Homo sapiens: one gene and its partners. The protein of the gene in region 1 purifies or fractionates together with the protein of each later gene. This does not show direct contact. Each region holds a gene or a part of one and is shown on either strand. Other genes may lie near its edges.

The links. The genes of interacting proteins can lie anywhere in the genome.
Region 2: the proteins of PMM1 (region 1) and VSIG8 purify together in Homo sapiens (affinity purification with mass spectrometry; 3 studies listed by BioGRID and IntAct, with this or other methods). This does not show direct contact.
Region 3: the proteins of PMM1 (region 1) and HEPHL1 purify together in Homo sapiens (affinity purification with mass spectrometry; 3 studies listed by BioGRID and IntAct, with this or other methods). This does not show direct contact.

What each region holds. Positions count from the first base shown.
Region 1 is NC_000022.11:41,576,372-41,579,842, reverse strand, and holds the end of PMM1 (phosphomannomutase 1), read left to right. Parts: intron 1-961; coding exon 962-1,037; intron 1,038-1,919; coding exon 1,920-2,035; intron 2,036-2,402; coding exon 2,403-2,525; 3' UTR 2,526-2,943; downstream 2,944-3,471. UniProt on the Homo sapiens protein: Involved in the synthesis of the GDP-mannose and dolichol-phosphate-mannose required for a number of critical mannosyl transfer reactions. In addition, may be responsible for the degradation of glucose-1,6-bisphosphate in ischemic brain.
Region 2 is NC_000001.11:159,859,653-159,867,682, reverse strand, and holds the start of VSIG8 (V-set and immunoglobulin domain-containing protein 8 precursor), read left to right. Parts: upstream 1-5,025; 5' UTR 5,026-5,161; coding exon 5,162-5,210; exon of another isoform or gene 5,211-7,037; intron 7,038-8,030.
Region 3 is NC_000011.10:94,016,614-94,024,358, forward strand, and holds the start of HEPHL1 (ferroxidase HEPHL1 precursor), read left to right. Parts: upstream 1-4,740; 5' UTR 4,741-4,755; coding exon 4,756-4,925; intron 4,926-7,745. UniProt on the Homo sapiens protein: Is a copper-binding glycoprotein with ferroxidase activity. It oxidizes Fe(2+) to Fe(3+) without releasing radical oxygen species. May be involved in the regulation of intracellular iron content.

The DNA.
Region 1 (3,471 bases):
CACAGCTGAGGAGTACAGTAGCCAAGCCTGGCTACTTGCCTTCAGATCTCAGGCTAGGGGGTGTCTGGCTTTATATCTGACATCCTCCCTGGGCCACTTCTCCAAGCTCCATGCTGCTGACCACTGCCTGCCTTTCCGCCCCAGTCCTACCCGGCTCTGACTACAGGGCCATACCAGCCACCCCACTCCTGTGCTCCAGAATCCTCAGCGCCTCTTGGTCCCCCAGGATGTGGTCAGACTTCCCAGCCCGGTCTCGAGACCCTCTGTCAGCTGAATGTCCTGCTGGCTGGTTTAGATGTTCAGCTGCCCCTCAGACTGGGCATAGCTGCTCCCCTTTGTGGCCCTCTGAGATGGAGATCCTGGGGGCTGGCGGGGAGAATGTCCCCCTGCTCCACGTTTGCGGAGCTGCTGCCAGAGTTCCTGCTCAGAGGGACGGGGCCGGCCTGGGCACTACCTAGTCCCCAGCCCAGCCGCGTCTTTGCATGCTGGGTGCTCTGCCATGCCTGGCATCCTGCTGCCCTCTGTGAATGCCCACAGCCACCTCCTCACAGGTCTCCTGCTCTCAGCTCCCATGCTCATTTCTGAGTATTTGCTTTGTTGAGCTGGTTACAGATAACAGGATCGAGCCCTGCCCTGAGGTGGACACTGATGTGGGATCCAGATTGCCCCGTCTCCTCGCCCTTCCTACTCGTGTCTCTCCTCTGAGGTCTCCTTCAGAAGACCCAGCCCACAGCCCCATTGGCAGCCCCATCCCTTCTGGATTTAGGCCCTGGCTCTGCCACCAGGGCTAGGTGACCTTGACCAAGGCACAACCCCTCTCTGAGCCTTAGTTTGCGCATCTGCACAGTTGGGGGTCCTACCCACCTAGAATGCTCAGCACGCTCACGTGGACTGTGTGCCCAGCCAGGGCCTGGCACACAGCAGGTCCTCTGAGCTGCCATCCGCTCCCTCCCCTCTGCAGAAAGAGAAGATCCGGGAGAAGTTCGTGGAAGCCCTGAAAACAGAGTTTGCTGGCAAAGGGCTGAGGTTCTCTCGAGGTACGTCCACCCTGCAGAGGACCTGGGAGGCCTGGTACAGGGCCCCTCCTCAAACCATCTGCCCCTGCCAAGACCAGGCTGTGGCCCCCAGTAGCTTTAGTAGCCCCTCCCCGGCTCAGGGCAGAGAGGGTGGCTGAGCCCGATGCAGAAAGGGGTTCAGTGTTTACTGGCCCCCAGTTTTCCCCACCTCATACCTCAGAGGTAAACGCCCCATGCCCACCCAGTTTCTCAGGCCAAAAAACCAGAGCCTCTCCCTTGAATGCTCTCCCCCACCCCTTCCCAAGTCCAAACTCCTAGAAGTCACAGGGCCCCCTGTCTGGAATCCCACCGGTGCTCACACTTCCACTGCCAGCAGCTTGTCCCAGGCTCCAACTGACCCTGACACAACTGGGCTCCCCTCTGCCACCTCACCCATTCCCCAGTGGCCAGAGAGGCTGGAGCTGGAGTCATGACATGCCTCTGCCCAAAGTCCTCCCCAGGCTCTTCCTCCCTCTCCATGTGATGCCCAGGGCCTGCCCGTCCTCCCCCTACCTCTCCTGGCCTCCTCCGTTGCTGGGACGCTCGTTCTCTTCCCTGCCTCAGGGGCTGTACTTTGCGCCCCAGCCATCCCCACTCGGCTCAGGTCCCAGCTCATTGCCACCTCCTCAGAGGTCTCCCCTGATCACCCTGGCCGGATGAGCTTCCCCCACCCACTTCATGGTCTTGTTCATTCTCCAACCTGTGTCATAACTTCCTTGAGGATCCTAAGTCTGTCCCGTGTCCTATTCCTGGCCCTCAGTAGGCACTCAAGGGTTGTTGAATGAATGAATGAACAAGCAGCCCTTCTGTTAGCCTTGTCTGCCCCTCCCAGCAGGGAATAACAGTCCCCACCCCTGCCCACAGGAGGCATGATCAGCTTTGACGTCTTCCCCGAGGGCTGGGACAAGCGCTACTGCCTGGATAGCCTGGACCAGGACAGCTTCGACACCATCCACTTCTTTGGGAACGAGACTAGCCCTGTGAGTGTGGCCCACCCCAGGTTTCCCCTAACGCAGTGGACAGTGAGAAGCCAGGTCTGGTGGCTTCTCCAATGCAAATCACCTGAGGTCAAGGCCAGAACATGGGGCAACACAACAGACCTCTTAGGGGGCTCCTGGAGAACAACCATTGCTCACCAGCCCCGTTACACAGATTGGAAAGCTGGGGCCCCAAGAGGCTGGGCACTTGTTCTACATCACACAGCAAGTCAGGGCAGGTCTGACAAGGGGTGAGAAGGTGGGCTTCCTGGCAGTTCTGAAGGGGCAGGAGGAGGGGCAGGTCCGTAGCAGCCAATGTGGAGAGGGACTCCACCTAAATATCCCTCCTCTGCCCATCCTCTGTGTGCAGGGTGGGAACGACTTTGAGATCTTTGCCGACCCCCGGACTGTTGGCCACAGCGTGGTGTCTCCTCAGGACACGGTGCAGCGATGCCGGGAGATTTTCTTCCCAGAGACAGCTCATGAGGCGTGACCGGGGCCCACATCTGTGTGTCGTGACTTCTGAAGAGTTTGGCCTAGGCCTAAAGAGAGGTCCTGGTGTTGGATAGATGCCAGGGCCCCTCCTCTGGCCCAGGACGCCTGCTGCAAGCCCACCCAGATGGGGCCAGAGTCTGTGTGGACAACCGTCCCCAGCCAGTCTGCTCCTAGTGGCACTGGCTTCGTCCTCCCAGGGCCCAGAGTGTTCCCCATGCTCCACCTGGTGGCCCAGGCCACAGCTGCTGCTTGTATTTCGGTACAGAAGAGGTTTCTTTCTGCACCAGGAGGAGGCGTGCTCAAGTATCGGTACGAGATCTAGCCTGCCCTGCCTGCCTGCCCTGGGCGATGAGGTACGGTGGGGAAGGTGCCTATTTTAGAGAACTTTGTCACAGTATTAAAGTTCCCAGAACAAAGTAGGTGTCAGCTGTGTCTGAATGGATAATTGGCCCCAGTCACATGCTGTCACAGCCACTACTTTGCCGACAAGTAAACAGCACAGAGAGGGCAGGGACTTGGCCCAGGTCACAAAGGAAGTCTGATGCAGTCGAGGAGGGGGCCATTGAATCCCCAAAGAAGAGCTGGTTTGGTGTGTCCACCCCCAGCCCCTTCCTTGGGGACCCTGACACAGAGGCAGCTTCAGGCCACGGTGGGTCACAGTTGAGGGTTTATTGCCAGTGTTAGGAAGAATGGGGGGTCTGGGTGGCCAGGGGTCTTGGGAGGAATTCCAAATGAGCACTGCAGGGCCTGTGAGTGGGGAGGAGAGCTGCTGCCCCCCTGCCACCCAGGAGGCCCCAGGGCTGATGCCACCATATCCTGACTGCTAGTGGTGCCTTAAAAGGTGGCCTCCCCACAGGAGGGGAGCCTTGGGGGCCCCCAGGAGTCAGCCCTCACCAACAAGCCCTCTCTCAAGGGGGCCAGGGGCCTTTATTCCTCATGGGACA
Region 2 (8,030 bases), on another chromosome or scaffold:
CAAAATCAAAGGCAAGTTTTATTTCTACAAATTAAAATGTCAAAGTCCCATTGGACCTGTGGATTAATTCATCTCAAAGTTTCTCTCCCCATAAACAGACAGACTCATGGTTCAGGACAATCAATTTTAGTTGCTTAATCCACCCGATGGCCTGGCTCTGATCCCAGTGAGGTGCTCTGGTGTTCTGGGTAGAAGGTCCCAAGAGGTTCCGTTCTCAAGGATCTTCCTTCCTCAGTTAAAAAATAATCGTCAGCTGTCACTCCTGGCTTTGCTCTTCTCAGTCCATGTCTGGCAGGGACCTGGCTTACTTACCAAGCCCAGAAATATTCCCCTGGCCTCCTCTCTCCACCCGCTACTCTTTTCTCTGGCACGCCGTTGTTAGTTATCCTTCAGATCTCGGCTTAAACATCATTGCCACTAAGTCAGGGGCCTTGCACGTATTACTGCATCTTACCACATTGCGGGCCAGGAGCTATTTCCGTGTCAGATGGGGTGTTCTGTGAGGATAGGGACTGAGTCTCCTTAATTGCCATTTCCCCAGGGCCTAGCACAAAGCCTGGCTGTTTGCTGAATGAATGAAGGTTCTGCAGGATGTGGTTGATCTTGGCGAGGTGAAGATACCTTTATCTTCAAAGCCTCTTCATTCTTCCTCAGATCTGTCATCAGGGAATCACATAGCCTTTACAAGCGATTTCTTCTCGCCTCCACTCATTCTCTTGCTAACAATTCAGTTGGTGGCATTCAATCGCCTCCCTTTGCTCTTGTGCTTTGTTGATGTAGTGACAACTCCAGCCACTCCTTTAATTGATGGGGACTATGTGTGTGCTGCTTGCTCTTCTGAGTCTGTCAGCTTCAGGACATTGCTTGATGGGAGAGATGTGGGCATATCCAGGCTCCTCCTAGAATCCCACTTCTTCTGAAGTGTACCAGTCAGAACCACTGAGGTTTGGGAAACCTAAGCAGGAGCTTGGGGAGTCCCTGTGTCACCTGTGTTCACGGCTCTTCCCTGCCAGCTTTGATTTGAGCCTTAGTTTCGAACCCAACCCACACCCTCAAACTTAGCCCCACATGTCGATCTCATCCCTCTCTGTAACCAGAATCCGACGTTGTCCCATCACCACCCATGCAACCTCTGAGCCCCCTGCCCTTCTCATGCAACCATGGCCTCACCTGGCAGACCTCCACCTCCAAATCATCACTGAAAGCTGGGTGGACAGACAGCAGCTGCAAGGCTCCTTGGCTTCTCTGTGACTCTTTGCCTATCCATTGTCACTCACAGCTTCTGCTCCCAGAGTCTTACCTCAGAGGTTTCCTCTGCAGGACAGCTCCTCCCTGGGTGCTGCAGGGTGAGCCCTGGGCTACATGGGGACTTGGGAGAGGGGGCTGAGGAGCTTGCTGACTGTGTGGGGAGGAGTTTAGAATGAGTCAAATTGCAGTGCCAGCCAAGGCAGGGGTTGTGGGGAGCTTGATTGAGCCTGAGCCCAGGGAGTCTGGCGGCCACTGAGAGGGGTTGGGGTGGGCAAGTACAGGCAGGGGAGGGCAGGGCTTAGAGGAGTGGGGTGGAGTTGCCATGAAAGGGACTTTGGAGGAAGAATAGGCTTTGGAGGAAGAGTAGGCAGCCCAAGCCCTCTGTCCGTCCTTCCCAGAAAGGTTCTGGGGCTGGGCTGCACTTCATCTGGTAAGCAATCTGTGGCCTTCTCTGAGTTTTTGTCCAGCCTCTTCCTACCTCCTGTATCTCCCTGTTTACTCCTTTCTAAGCCAGTCTTTGATTTTCTGTTACTGTCTTAGAATAGAAGCAAATACCAGTCAAAGCAGGGCCATTCTTCCCTGGAGAGTCATGGATTTCTTAGGAAAAAGCAAGGGGCCCTTTTGGAAATTTGTATTGGTTCCCAGCTCGTGGCCTGGGCCCTCTGCCTCCTCTGTATCCCTCTGAGTCTCTGGAGGGGCCATTTAGACCATGTGTCTTTCTGTCTGCCTCTGTCCCTGTCTCTGTCTTTGCCCCTTAACTCATCACTATCTCTCCCAATCTCTTTCTTCTCTCTCTCTGGGGTCACAGGGGGAACCCCAGTAGTCTCCTGGACCAGACCTTTATAAAACCTGAAAAGGAAGTGGGTGGGGAAATGAGATGTTTGGGCTGGAGACTGGTTGGGGAAAAATGAGAGGGAGGAATTGGGACGGGGTCTTCCTAGGAGTGGGGCCCTCTTCCACTGCTGAGGATAAGGCCCAGAGACTTACACGGACTGTGAGCTGGGCCCAGAGGGAGGGGACTGTAGGACTGTGACATATGCTTTGGAAACTATGCTGACACCCCAGTGCCTTCACCCCATCCACAGCCTCCCCACTGCTGCCCTCCCTGAAAACCCTGCAGGGCTCAGGGTTTAGGGCTGGAAGGCTGACAGCTTCTTTTATAGGACTCAAATTGCAAGAAGGTAGCAATTAAGCCTCAGAGGGTCAAGGGGAAACAACAATGGCACTCTGCCCTTTCAGGCTTTGAAAGACCCCCATGTGGTGCCCCATAAAGTGGCTGTTCTAGGAGCATGTAGGCCCTCAGTTTCTCCCAACTCCCATCTCCTAAGGACTCCAAATCCAGACCACCCCTCCTCCCCACTCAGTAAGACTCCCTCTGATGGACCCCATCTTCTAGTTCGGTTTGGTGTCAGAGCCCAACTCATTGTCAGTAGCTTCCTGCGTCTCCTCCCCAGATGTTTTTCTGGAGCTTGGCCAGGTGGTGAGCTTTAGTAGTGGAGCAGGACTTCAGAGGGTCCATTCTCTATGGGATTTAGTTGCCTCATACCCCTTAGATGGGCTCGTGTACATTTGGCTTCCTCCTCCAAGTCTTGGGACCCCAATCAACATGTGCCATTAGTAGTCTCCCCGCACTAAGGATTGAAAATTCTAGCCAAACCTGGATTTAGCAGATGGAGGCTGAAGTCTTTCTATATTAGAAATAAAACCTCATCTTTGATCCCCATCAACTCCCGCTGCTTACGTGTCTTTAAACCATGTTCCAACCCTAACCACAGCCTATTTCAATGTGAATCTCAAACTTAGTTCTAACCCAATGCTAAATCAATCTAAACCCAGCCTTTGATTTAGCCCTAACTGTATTCCCAGGCAGAGCTGTAAATGAAACTAAAACTCTATTCCTTATCGTAACACAAATCCCAGCCATAAACCTGAGCCTCAATTCTAGCTGTATTTCTAACCCTAATCCCAACCTTAACTCTAATCCCAACCTCAAATCTGACCTCAACCTCATTCATAATTCAACTAACCCCAAACTTAACCCCAGCTCTAACATTAGCCCACATCCAGAACCCAATTAAATCTGAAGCCTGCACTGTAGTTTAGTGGAACCACAATGTTACTGCTTTCTCCTCAATCTCTCTGTTCGTGGTCTGACCTGTTTTCCCTCCCACTCACCCTGACCTTCCATGGTTCTTGTTCGTGAGTGGGTCTAGTAATCCACAGGATCACCAAGACCATTTTTTGGACCTCTCTGGACTGACACCCTGGGTACCTGGGTATCCCAGCTTAGGCACCAGCCGCATTGGCTGAATCCCCATGTTTCTCCAGGTCTCTGTTTCCCCATCTGTAAAATGGGGATAATGATCCCTGCTCTTCAAAGGGAGCAGGACAATCCCATAAACCTAAAAATAAATAAGGAAATAAAGATATTCATTGTGTACATCTGGTAGGTCTCAGAGCGCCCTGTTATTGTTGGGAGTTCAGGTGCAACGGCTTGGAATGCAGAGACGCGTGGACTCCTTGTGTTTCCTTAATGTTCTGACTTATTTTTCCCCAGAGGGGTGGGCCCTGGCAGCATCCCTGAGCCCCATAACTCTCCCTAACACTCTTCCTCCTCTGCCCTTTCTGTGCCCCATGGTAGGGATGGGGGCAGTCCCTGACTCCTTTGAGGGAGTTGAGCTATTGAATGGGGTCACTCATGTCCTGACTCCCACCATGGAGTCCAACAAGGCACATGCCCATTCTGTCCCCCTTAGACAAGCCAACAAGGGGTGGCCCTTCACTTGCTCCCCATGCCTACCAGGACCCTCCCCACCCCAGCACGAACTTACCCAGAACTGTGCTGGTTTAGTCAGCCCGATGACCAGTCCAGGTTATGAGGGTCCTTGGTCTCAAGGACCCAGTTAATACTGGGACTGCATTAACCCTCAAGACCTGGCTACTCTTTCTGGGCAGAGAAGCCAGGACACCAAGCGATCCCTCAAGAAGTTCACTCAGAGGGGCTTAGCCATCCTCACAGAGACACCCTGACACAGACATCCTGCCTCCCTCCCACAGACATTGCTGAGGGGTGCACACGCTTACACAGGCACCCCCTTCCCTGGTCCTCTTGGCGCTGTTCTCTCCAACACTCCCTCACTAGCCCATCAGTCACCTTACTCCTAGCACACACCCTGGACCCCCCATAGCACCCCTGCTCCCAGGGGTCCCCTACACTTGGGGATGGCCTTGAGTCGAGTATGGGTGTGGAGGACAGTTCCAGAGGGGACAGCCAGGAGGAGACTCTGTTCCTGCACACACCCCTTCTCTCCTCTTTCAGCTCAGGAGGCCTGAGTCCCTTTGAAAGGCCTGAAGCCTGGGGGAAGGTGGGCTGGACACTCCTGGGGAACCCTATGCCCTGGGATCAGGATTAACTCTTCAGGTCCTGGCCACTCTTTCTCCCAAGCCTGGCTTCTCCTTCCTCTTCCCCACTTCCCCCAGGGAAGGAGGCAGCAAATGAGTGGTGAGGGGAGCCCTTGGAAGCTGTAAATGAGGTGACTGTTGTCACCCTGAGGATGTGGCCAGGAGGAAGTGAAGTTTAACAGGTGCCTAATTACAAGTCCCGCTGGCTGTCCTGTGCCACTCTTAGGACAGGGAAGAGCTTGGGTGAGGGCTGGGTAATGCCCAGGTAGGCCACCCTGTCACCCTGCTAATTAGGGTTCCTGGGACTCCTCCCCAAGGCGGGGACCAGGCCCCCTCCCTCCCATAGAAATAACTCCAGCTGCTCCCCAGCTGGGCACTCATTGCACCTTCCTGCCACCCCAGGCAGTGTCTGGGCCCTCAGCTCCCCCTCCCTCCACCTACCCCCTCACACCCACCACTACGACCCCACGGGATACCCAGCCCAGACGGAGGAAACACCGAGCCTAGAGACATGAGAGTTGGAGGAGCATTCCACCTTCTACTCGTGTGCCTGAGCCCAGGTACGGGGCTGGGCAGGGGGCAGGGTAGCCAGCATGAGGCTAGGTGGGAAGGAAAGGGGCAGCAAGGGCTCACAGTGGAGCCTGGGGCTGCCTGAGTTGCCTGGCAGGGTGCTGCCCACCCTTGCCCTGCTGCAGCCGGGTGTGGGTATTACCAGGGGACCTTTCCCCAGGAGACCCTGTGCCTGATGTTCAGGGTGTGTGTCTGTAGTGCAGAGGTCTTTGAGTGGATCTTTATATGTCCCCTGTCGGGCTCACACATGTGTGCAGGTGCCCTGCAAGCTCATGCCGTGACTAGGAGGAGAGGGATTGATTGCTCTGCAGGAGCTGGAGGTGGGGTAGGAGAGGGGTAAGCACGGGCATTGGGTGAGGGCTCAGGAGGAGCTTGGGAAGGATCAATTTTCATCAGACTGTGTGCTATTCCCAACGCTACTCCTTCTCTCCCAAGGCCAGGGCCAAGGGGCAGGGAAGTCACTTGCCTTGAAAGGGCAAGAGACTAAGTCTGGTGTAAGTCTGAGTGGTTTCTTCCATCATGGCCAGTGACAGCTCAGGCCTGAGACCTCAGCCTTGGGCCCCCTGTGCTATGACAGGGCAGTGCCCCACTCTAGGATGAGGCCTGAGGGTGGTGGGGATGGCAACTCCAGAGACTTCTCACCCCACCAGGACAGGTCCACAGGGCAGGGCTCAAGTTTGGACATTGTGGCTTCCTGCCCAGGTTGGGGCAAGTTCCACCAAGGGGCATTCTATGCCAACATCACTGGAAAGGGCTCCGAGTCCCTCTTGCAGTCTGGATTTGGGATGAAGGGGCATGAAGGAGGAATTTGGGAAGGCGGGGTGACATTTTCAGCCTTTGTGTGAGCGTGAATGTGTATGTGAGTGTGTGGGTGCGTGCACCTGCATGGGAATGATGACATTTCCGGCAGGATAGCTGCAGCCCTTCTCTGTCTGATGAGAGCAGGGCTGGCAGAGTCCACTCGGGAGGCTCCAGCTGTGCTGTGGGGACCCGGACTTCCCCCTGTGTGGTGTGTCAATGGGTGTGTGAGGACAACTCAGCACTGGCTGCATTAACGCATCAATACCCTCAGCTGGAGCCGCCTTTTCTCCCCTCCCTTACCTCCAGAGGGAAGATCAGGAGTTCTGGAAGCACCTTGAAGATTCAGAAAGAATTTGCAAGCAGAGAGTAGGCACCACTATTGAGATGACACCCCGTAAAGCATGGCCAGTTTCTGGTGCTTTTGGGGGGCAAAGAATCACCACTGTCCTCTTCCTTGGAGAGCCCATGTGATTCCTCCATTCCTGTCTCTCCTCAAGTCTCCCATCCAGCTCTCTCTTCCACTTTGCCTTTCTTCCCTCTCTCCAGCCTCTCCTCTCACATTCCCTGTAGTACTTCCTTAGTGCTACAGCAAGAGGAATCAAGGTGAGACATTAGGAGCAACTTCCCAAGGAGAGGGAGGGGTGCGGAAAGGCTGGAACCCTTGGGAGGAGGTTGAGAAGACTTCTAAGGAGATAGAAAAGCTGGGTGAGGCTCCCTGGTCTGGGACAATTGAAGAATCTCTCAGCCTGGTGCAGGGTGGAGGTGCTTTTCTTGCAGCCTGTCGCTCCTTCCCAAGCCCCTCTCCCTGAATGCTTACCATCCTGCCTGGCAGGCTCCTATGGCATGGAGAGAGTCCTTCCTGTGTGGGTGCTTCCAGCGGTGCTTCTCCAGGGTGGAGCCTCTGCTCTCAGCCGAGTTCTGGCTCATCCCTGGCTTGCCTTGAGCAGCCTCAGGATCTGGCAGATGGCAGCAGGATCCTTATCTCAGGAATGAGCTGTTGTTCTCTTGGCCTGGAGCTGGAAGAGGCATCACTAGGTCCCGTTAGAGCCCCAGCAGTCAGCCTGCCTGCTCTGGGTCACCTTGGAGTCTAGCTGGGTTATGACAGAGCTGATGGCCCAGCCAGTGTTCCTAGGGGGGATGTTCAGGGATCCCTGAGCTGTTGAGGGTGTTGAAAGGGCCCTTGCTGGCCTCTCTGGAGCCAGGCTAAGCCTTCCTGGCAGGGCTTCCATAGATATGTCTGGTCTTGAATGAACACATACAGGGACTATATGAACACACGGTGGGTGTGTCTTTTGAATTAATATGTTCTGTGTTTGTGTGCAGATTGTGTCTGTGTCTGAATGAATCTATATAGTGTCTGTGTTTGTAGGAAGGTGGGGCCATATAGGTATGTATCTGCATTTTGAAGCCTTGTAAGAGTGGGCCACGTGCCGATTTGTTTGCCTGTGATGGTGTAATTGTGTGTGTGCATGTGTGAGATCTCTATGTGTAAACATGGTCCTGAGCCACATGATAGAACAGAATGATTGCTGAGACCTGGGGCTGTGACTCCAGAAGACATGTTGACTCAAAAAAGAACGCAGACGGAGAGTGTGTGAGGCCTGGTGAGGGGCCTGCAGAGGCAGGGTTGCTGGAGACTGGGAGGTGGAGGGCAGAGTGTCCAGGGTGGGGCCCTGGCTACACCCCCCGGTCTTATCCCTCTCTAGGTCCAACCGGTTGGGGATAGGCCTGCCTGGGGCTTCAGGGTAGGGAGGGACAAGAGCTCAGTCCTGAGCTCCTGGGTCCTGGGATCCTGGCTCCTCACCCAGGATTGCCTGCCACTGACTCAGTGGCAGGAGGGGCCTCACTGGAAGCCAGCTTGTGGGGGCAGCTGCATGCGAGCCACACAATCACATAAGAGGAAGCACACACAGTACGCAATGCTGTGTAGTCAAGAAAGACTCACAATGTCCTACAGATACCTGTGGCCATAGTCCCAGGCACACACCATCACTCACTATCACACACGA
Region 3 (7,745 bases), on another chromosome or scaffold:
CTAGCAGATGCTAATGCAGCTGGTGACTTTAAGTTGAAGCCAGTGCTCATTTACCATTCCAAATGTCCCAGGACCCTTAAGAATTATGCACAGTCTACTCTGTCTATACTCCCTAGATGGAATAATAATGTCTGGACAACAGTACATCTGTTTGCAGCATGGTTTACTGAATATTTTAAGTCCAGGGCTGAGACTTACTGCTAAGAAAAAAAAATTCTTTCAAAATATTACTGCTCATTAACAACGCACCTAGTGACCCAAGAGCTCTGACGGAAATGTATAATGAAATGAATGTTGTTTTCATGTCTGCTAACACAACATCCATTCCGTATGTCATAGATCAAGGAGTAACTGAATTTCAATCTTATTACTTGAGAAATACCTTTCTTGAGGCTATAGGTGCCATAGATAGTGATTCCTCTGATGAATCTGGGCAAAGTAAATTGAAAACCTTCTGGAAATAATTCACCATTCTAAATGCTGTTAAGAATATTTGTGATTCATGAGAGAAGGTCAAAATATCAACATTGACAGGAGTTTGGAAGAAGCTGATTCAAACCCTCATGGATGACTTTGAGAGGTTCAAGACTTCAATGGAGGAAGTAACTGCAGATGTGGTGGAAGCAGCAAGTGAACTACAATTAGAAGTGGAGCCTGAAGATGTGACTGAATTGTTGCAATCTCATAATAAAATTTACATGAATAAGGTGTTGCTTCTTATGGATGAACAAAGCAAGTGGTTTCTTGAAATGGAATTTACTGGTGAAGATGCTGTGAATATTGTAGAAATGACAACAAAGGATTCAGCATATTACATAAACTTAGTTGATAAAGCAGGAGCAGGGTTGGGAAAATTTATTCCAATTTTGAAAGAAGTTCTTTTATTGGTAAAATACTATTAAACAGCATCATGGGTTATAGAGTAATCTTTCATGAAAGGAAACCAAATGATGTGTCAAACTATTGTTCTTATTTTAAGAAGTTGCCACAGCCACCTCAACCTTCAGTGACCACCATCCTGATTAGTCAGCAGCCATCCACATTGAGGCAAGACCCTCCACAGCAAAAAGACTGACTCACTGAAGACTCAGGTGATTGTTAGCATTTTTAAACAATAAGGTATTTTTAAATTAAGGTGTGTACATTTTTTAGACATAATGCAATTGCACACACACTTATAGACTGTAATATTGTGTAAACATAACTTTTTTTTTTTTTTAGATAGGGTCTCCTTCTGTCAGTGAGGCTGGAGTGCAGTGGCATGATCTTAACATACTACAGCCTCGACCTCTTGGGCTCAAATGATCCCCCCACCTCAGCCTCCTGAGTAGCGGGGACTATAGGTGCACCCCACCATGCTTGGCTAATTTTTTTGTATTTTTTATGGTGACAAGTTTTGCCATGTTGCCCAGGCTGGTCTCAAACTTCTGGCCTCAAGTGATCCTCTCACCTTGGCCTCCCAAAGTGCTGGGATTACAGGTGTGAGCCACTGTACATGGCCTAAGCATAAGTTTTATACGCACTGGAAAACCAAAAAATCCATGTGATTCGCTTTATTTTGATATTCACTTTATCATGGTGGTCTGGAACCACACCTGCAATATCTTCAAGGTGTGCCTGTACCATAATTTCAATAAAATGTGATTTAACCCAGCATTATCTTTCTCTGCTATTGATGCATGATGTCAAATTTACCTTATCTGAAACCTGGTGAATGTTTTGAGGAATGGAGTGAATATTTAGAACTGGCCATCTCACATAATAAATGCTTGATAAATGGGTTTCTTGACTTTAAAAAAATGTCTGACTAGTGTTCAATGGAGTTGGAAGTATTTGCTAACATTATTACTTACACAGGTTACTTAATCAAATTTTAAACATTGTCAAACATATCTTGTATGTAACTGTGGGTTTTTAAAAATGAGTGTTGATATGATAATTCACAGGTTTCCTAATAAAATTTAGACACTGTCAAACACATTGGGCGTGGAACTGTCGCTTTTCTGAAATGAGTGTCACAGGAACACTGCATTGTCTCATACCAGTTTATTTTCTTTAGCTCCTATGGCATTCCAATGCTCTTTGAGTAACACCTTTATTGTCCTAGGATAAGGAAGAATTTAAGAGAGCTTTCCAGAACCCTATTTCATTGTTTTTAATAAATTCTTTCCCACTTTTGGCCCTCTGTAAGCAAGTTCTCTGCTACAAATAGATTAAATGCGTTGACTTCATCTGCTATAGTGACTCAGATTTCTTGACCTGATCTATTCTGCAGATCTAGTTTTTGAATCAGAAGTTAGGTAATGCCTTCTCCTGGGTTTTAATTATATGCGTTCAGTATCTTGGGTAAGAAAGTTAACTCTTTTGTCTTTTTGAGCTGTATCACTTATACCTTTTTTTTTCTCCTGTCCAAAAAGGGGGGAATATGTCCTAATAACGTCTTTGATACGCCCAAAATAGCCAGCTTCTCTGGGATGTAAGCAACAAGATATTTGGTTTGGGACATTTCCAAATTCCACAACCTTTTTTTTTTTTTTTTTTTTTTTTTTTTTTTTTTTTGTGAGACAGAGTCTCGCTCTATCATCCAGGCTAGAGTGCAGTTGTGAGATCTTGGCTCACTGCAACCTTTGCCTCCAGGGTTCAAGAGATTCTCCTGCCCCAGCCTCCCTAGTAGCTGGGACTACAGGCATGCACCAACATGCCCGGGTTATTTTTGTATTTTTAGTAGAGACAGGGTTTCACCATATTCGGCAGGCTGGTCTCGAACTCCTGACCTCAGGTGATCCACCCACCTCGGCCTCCCAAAGTGCTGAGATTATAGGCATTAGCCACTGCGCCTGGCCAGATTCCCCATACTTTGAACTCCCTACTTCTTCTGAGGCCAACCTCAGGCCTACCACGTAAGTCCTCCTCTATAGTGTCCGTTGAAGTGCCAGACTCATACGAAGCTCCCAAACTCATGTTGAAGAGGAGATTTTAGCTAAATGGAAATGTGCTGTGGCAATTATTCTACCAGTGTCCTTGATACAACAAACAAATCAGTAAATCAAAGTTGTAAAGAGCCTGGCTATGAAACAGGATACTCAGTATGTATTTTATTATTTATTTATTTATTTATTTACTTATTTTGAGAAGGAATCTTGCTCTTGTTGCCCAGGCTGGAGTGCAGTGGCACAATCTTGGCTCACTGCAACCTCCACCTCCCAGGTTCAAGCGATTCTTCTGCCTAAGCCTCCCAAGTAACTGGGATTACAGGCGCCTGCCACTACGCCCGGCTAATTTTTGTATTTTTAGTACAGACAGGGTTTCACCATGTTGGCCAGGCTGGTCTCAAACTCGTGACCACAGGTGATCTGACTGCCTTGGCCTCCCAAATTGCTGGGATTACAGACCTGAGCCACCGTGCCTGGCCTTTTATTAATTAAGATGAATGCTAATACAAACTGTGCTATGGGACATTTATAGGGTAGCTACCATTTAAAGAAAAAGAATTCTCTTACTTGAGACTGGTGGAAGGCATGGCAGATAGGACTTTGGCAAAGAATAGTGGAAAGAAAGTTGAAGACTGCGGGGAAACACAAGTCTGTGGATACACAGGTTGATACAGTCTCTCTTAGAGGGCATGAATGGGCAGGAAGGACTTTAACACTTACTTAGTACCTACCCTATGCTAGGGGCTGGGGTAAGCACTTTGCAGACATCATCTTTTAAAAAGTTCCTTAAGAATCCCTCAATCCTTCTTCTATAGTCTCCAGCTCAATGATGTTAAGTGATTCCTCCATGCCACTAAATTGGAAAGTGGTGGGAACTCACATTCAAACCCAGGTCTGACCAACTTCAAAGGCCAGGAGGCTGTTTCCTTCATTCCATGGCTGCTCCCTCAAGAGTAACTGTGCATGGGGATAAGAGTAACTCTTTTCCAAGGTTGATCAAGGTCTCTTTCAATACCGAGATTCTGGGACACAGATTAGAAGACACAGAAGAATGGCCCAGCCTTTTCCACCCAAAGACCTGTTACTGAATTTTGTCTCCATGTGTCTGAAGGGTACTTCCCCATCATCATTTTCATTCATCCTAAGAAAGGCGGCTCCCTGTGTGGAGGTGGTGGCCGCGAACATTTTGGCTGAACTGAGCAGTCAACCTTCTCATTTTTGCTGGAAGGATTTGAGAGAATATGGGGGAGATGGTACACGAGCCAGTGGAGGATTAGTGGGGTTTTATGTTGTTGTGATGAACTTTATGATGTTAGTTTGTGGTTTCACATAGCCTCATAAAACAAGCTGGATGGTGATTATGTCACTTCCTCTGCCCTCCCGACAGAGAGGAGGCCTTCTTTAGTGCCTGGAGTGTTTCCTGATGCTCCACTCAGGCCAGCTCACTTTTCAGATTTTAATGTAAGAGGTGTGGAGAAGAAAAGAAGAAGAAGGGGTGGGGGAAAGCCATCGGCTCAAGTAGTCACACTGTCATCCTGGCTGACAAATGACTGATGTCAGAGCATGGTACCGAAACGTATAGAAACAGGCCTGTTGGCTTGGGCAATACATAAATGAGCCAGTCACACATTTCTCGGATGGCTGGCAAAAGTTTTGTTGTCAAAGCAACGCCCCCATCGAGCTTGCTTTGCTTACGCAAGGCCTCAGCCTTTGCCTCTTCCCCAAACCCAAGCTACCTGAGGAGGAGGAGCTGAGTGAGGGGGAGGGACCAACAGATTTGTCCCCTGTGCAGGCTGCCTGCCTGCTTGAGTTACATCCACAAATGCCTCGGAAGCAGCCAGCTGGCTGCATCTTTCTCCTCACATTCCTGGGTCTGTCTGGGCTGGTTGGCACAGTTACCAGAACGTACTACATTGGGATTGTGGAAGAATACTGGAACTATGTACCCCAAGGGAAGAATGTTATTACTGGGAAAAGTTTCACAGAAGACAAGTGAGTGAACTTAGGGTCCTCATTGACTCCCAGGTTTGGCCTCTTTTTGACTTTGTGTGGGGAAGGTTGTATTTCTTGGGTACTTACAATGGGGGTGAGTTGATCTAGACCAAGAGAAGGTGTTTTGTTTTTTGCTTGAAGAGCCCTAGTATGGATGGGTGTGTAATCTGGAAGAGATATTCATAGCTCCATGTATTTGTTGAGCCACCTATTAATAGCCTTGCCTGTGAAGGGACATATACACAACCAGGTGTTTGACAATTTCCACCAGGTACTACTAGTAACTTCTGGGGGATTCTGTTTGTTTGTTTGTTTTTAAATGACAACACTTGGGATGAAGATTTGAGAAATTTCAAGAATTCCTTATGGTTAAAACACAGTGTTTTCTTAGTTTGTATTTCTGGAATGAAACATCATAATGGGAGATAAGTATGCTAAGTCATGTTTTTCAACGTTTAAAAGAGGGGGAAGTCACAGGAGATTTGCCTGCTATTTTCAGGGTTTCCTTGAGTCTACTTAGAATTAGCGCTTTCACTGGTAAAAAGTTTATTCCAGCTCCAAGTCATTCTTGCTGAGGGCAATATCTTATCCCAGAACCTATAGCATAGCTAGGTGAGATGGCGCCACGGTGTTCTATGTTCCTGATTTTTAATTTGGGGCAGAAAATAACCCTTTCTCCCTGCCCCCTCCAGGGCCTAGTATCTTAACCATCTAATTTGTTTCATGGATCTCCCTCTGAAGTCACCTCCTGACTCCAGAAGATGTCATGCTATTTTCAACTTTGTGGTTATTAGAACATCTTTTCAGATGTTTTGGCAACCTCTGTTGGATATTTGAATGCTTGCTTCTTTTCTGACAGGCAGAACCAGTTGCATTCTGCATCCATGTTCCATTTCCTAAAGATGAGTTTAGTTGATAAAATTCAGGAACAGCACAGGGCCTACCAGCAAGTCTTTAAGAGCCAGGGCCCCTTGTCTTTGAGGAAAGACCAAAGATCCAGTTGGCTTGGAAATACAGCTTCCAAGTTTTCTAACAAAACAAAGGTGGTATAGTCATGTTTTGTTTACCAAAGATGAAGCCTGTGCCAGACAAGCTGCCAAGGCAGACTTTTCCTTAAGCTTTGTACCTGGAAATGTAATGTCTGCAGGGCTATTTCCAAAGGAAACTCTTGATTGCTTTCAATCCCACATCTGCTGACCATTGGTGGTAGTGTCTTTACTGTGATGAATAGCTATGGGATTGAAAGGGTACCAAAAATGCCAGGAGCCTTCTCTACAAATAGAGCTCTGCTATTCTCAGAGAGGGCTCAGTAGGAAACAGTCAATGTGAGCAGCTACTGGGGATAAGAATGTTGAAAGTGTGTACACTGAGTGTAATGAATATAGCGTTTAAGCTAAATGTGATACTGGATTGCCTTTCCATAAGATTAACACCCACAGAAATTCTTCTTCCTAAAATGCCCACGTCACTATAGCTGTGTATGGGCATTTATTCTGACCCAAAAATTCTATGAGGGATTTTTCAATTCATTACTGCTTGCAGATATTATTATTCTCATTTTATGAACCAGGAACCAAGGCTCTGAGGTTAAATACTTGCCGGAGTTTATAAGTAAGTGGTAGCACCAAACTCATTGCTTTGGTTCCACAGCCCATATTTCTTTTCACCACACAATCTGTTTCTTGGTAAAGGTGATCCTTCTCCAGTGAATTAAAACAACTTTGAGGGAAGCCAAGGATCACAGTAATAAGAACTTTCTAGAAAGTCCTAATTTTTGCCAAAGGCATGTTTAGTCTCTTTTGTCACTCTTCCTAGAAGCATATTGAAAGGGATCACTGGTGGTCAGTGACCAAACAAGTTATCTGGGTTAATTCAAAACCTCAAAGAATCATAAATACTCAAGTACTACAATGCTGTTTTCACAAAGTGGGGTGCTGGAAGAAGTTGGGGTCTCTGTTGATCATTTCAACCAGAAGATGGTGCTTTGATGAAAGTACAATAAAACATATAAAAATTGCTATGGTGAAAAAGAAAATAGGCATGATGAAAACAGTTGGTTTGGCATCAGATTTGAGTGAGATGGTTTCAAAATGCATGGTCCCATATGATAGTGCGTTTGTTCTTAGAAGCAGCTGGCATGCTAAGGTGTCATACCTAGAACGCCAAGGTCCCCAAACATTTCTTTCTGGTATGCGAAGGGACAGAGTTTGTGTCAGACAGACTGCTACCTCTTGGAAGGGAAATCCAGGTGAGTATGCAGTGGACGTTGGCTTTTATCAGTGATCCCATCAGAATACTGGTTTTTATCAGTGATCCCATCAGTGCTAGTAGTTGTGGTAGGTGGCTCAGACAAGTTCCTAAAAAGGTAGGGCTGTCGTAGGTGGCTGACATTGCTTGTGGACCACAAGATATCCATCCTGGGTGTATGTGAAGATGCTGTGACTGGGACATAAGTGGAGTTCAGTGTGTGTACTCTGTGTTGTGCCATTTCCCCAGGAGCAGGAAGGAGCCATCGTGGATGATGTAATCATGCCCCTCTCTCAGCCTCCTGGAGGGTGAATAGGCTGCCTTTCTGAGGACAGTCTGTTGTTTTGGATATTCACACTTGGGCAAATGTCTGATATTTAAAGGACCAGGAGAGCCAGGTGCTCAGAATTCCACCATGAATGGAAAGAACCTGAAATAGAAATCCAGAGACCTAACTTCTAATGCTTGCTCTGCCCAACTTGCTGTGTAATCTTGAACATGTCATATAATCTCTCTGAATATCACTTTCCTTAATTTGTGTAAGAAGGGAGTTGAAATGTAATCCCTAGAGTC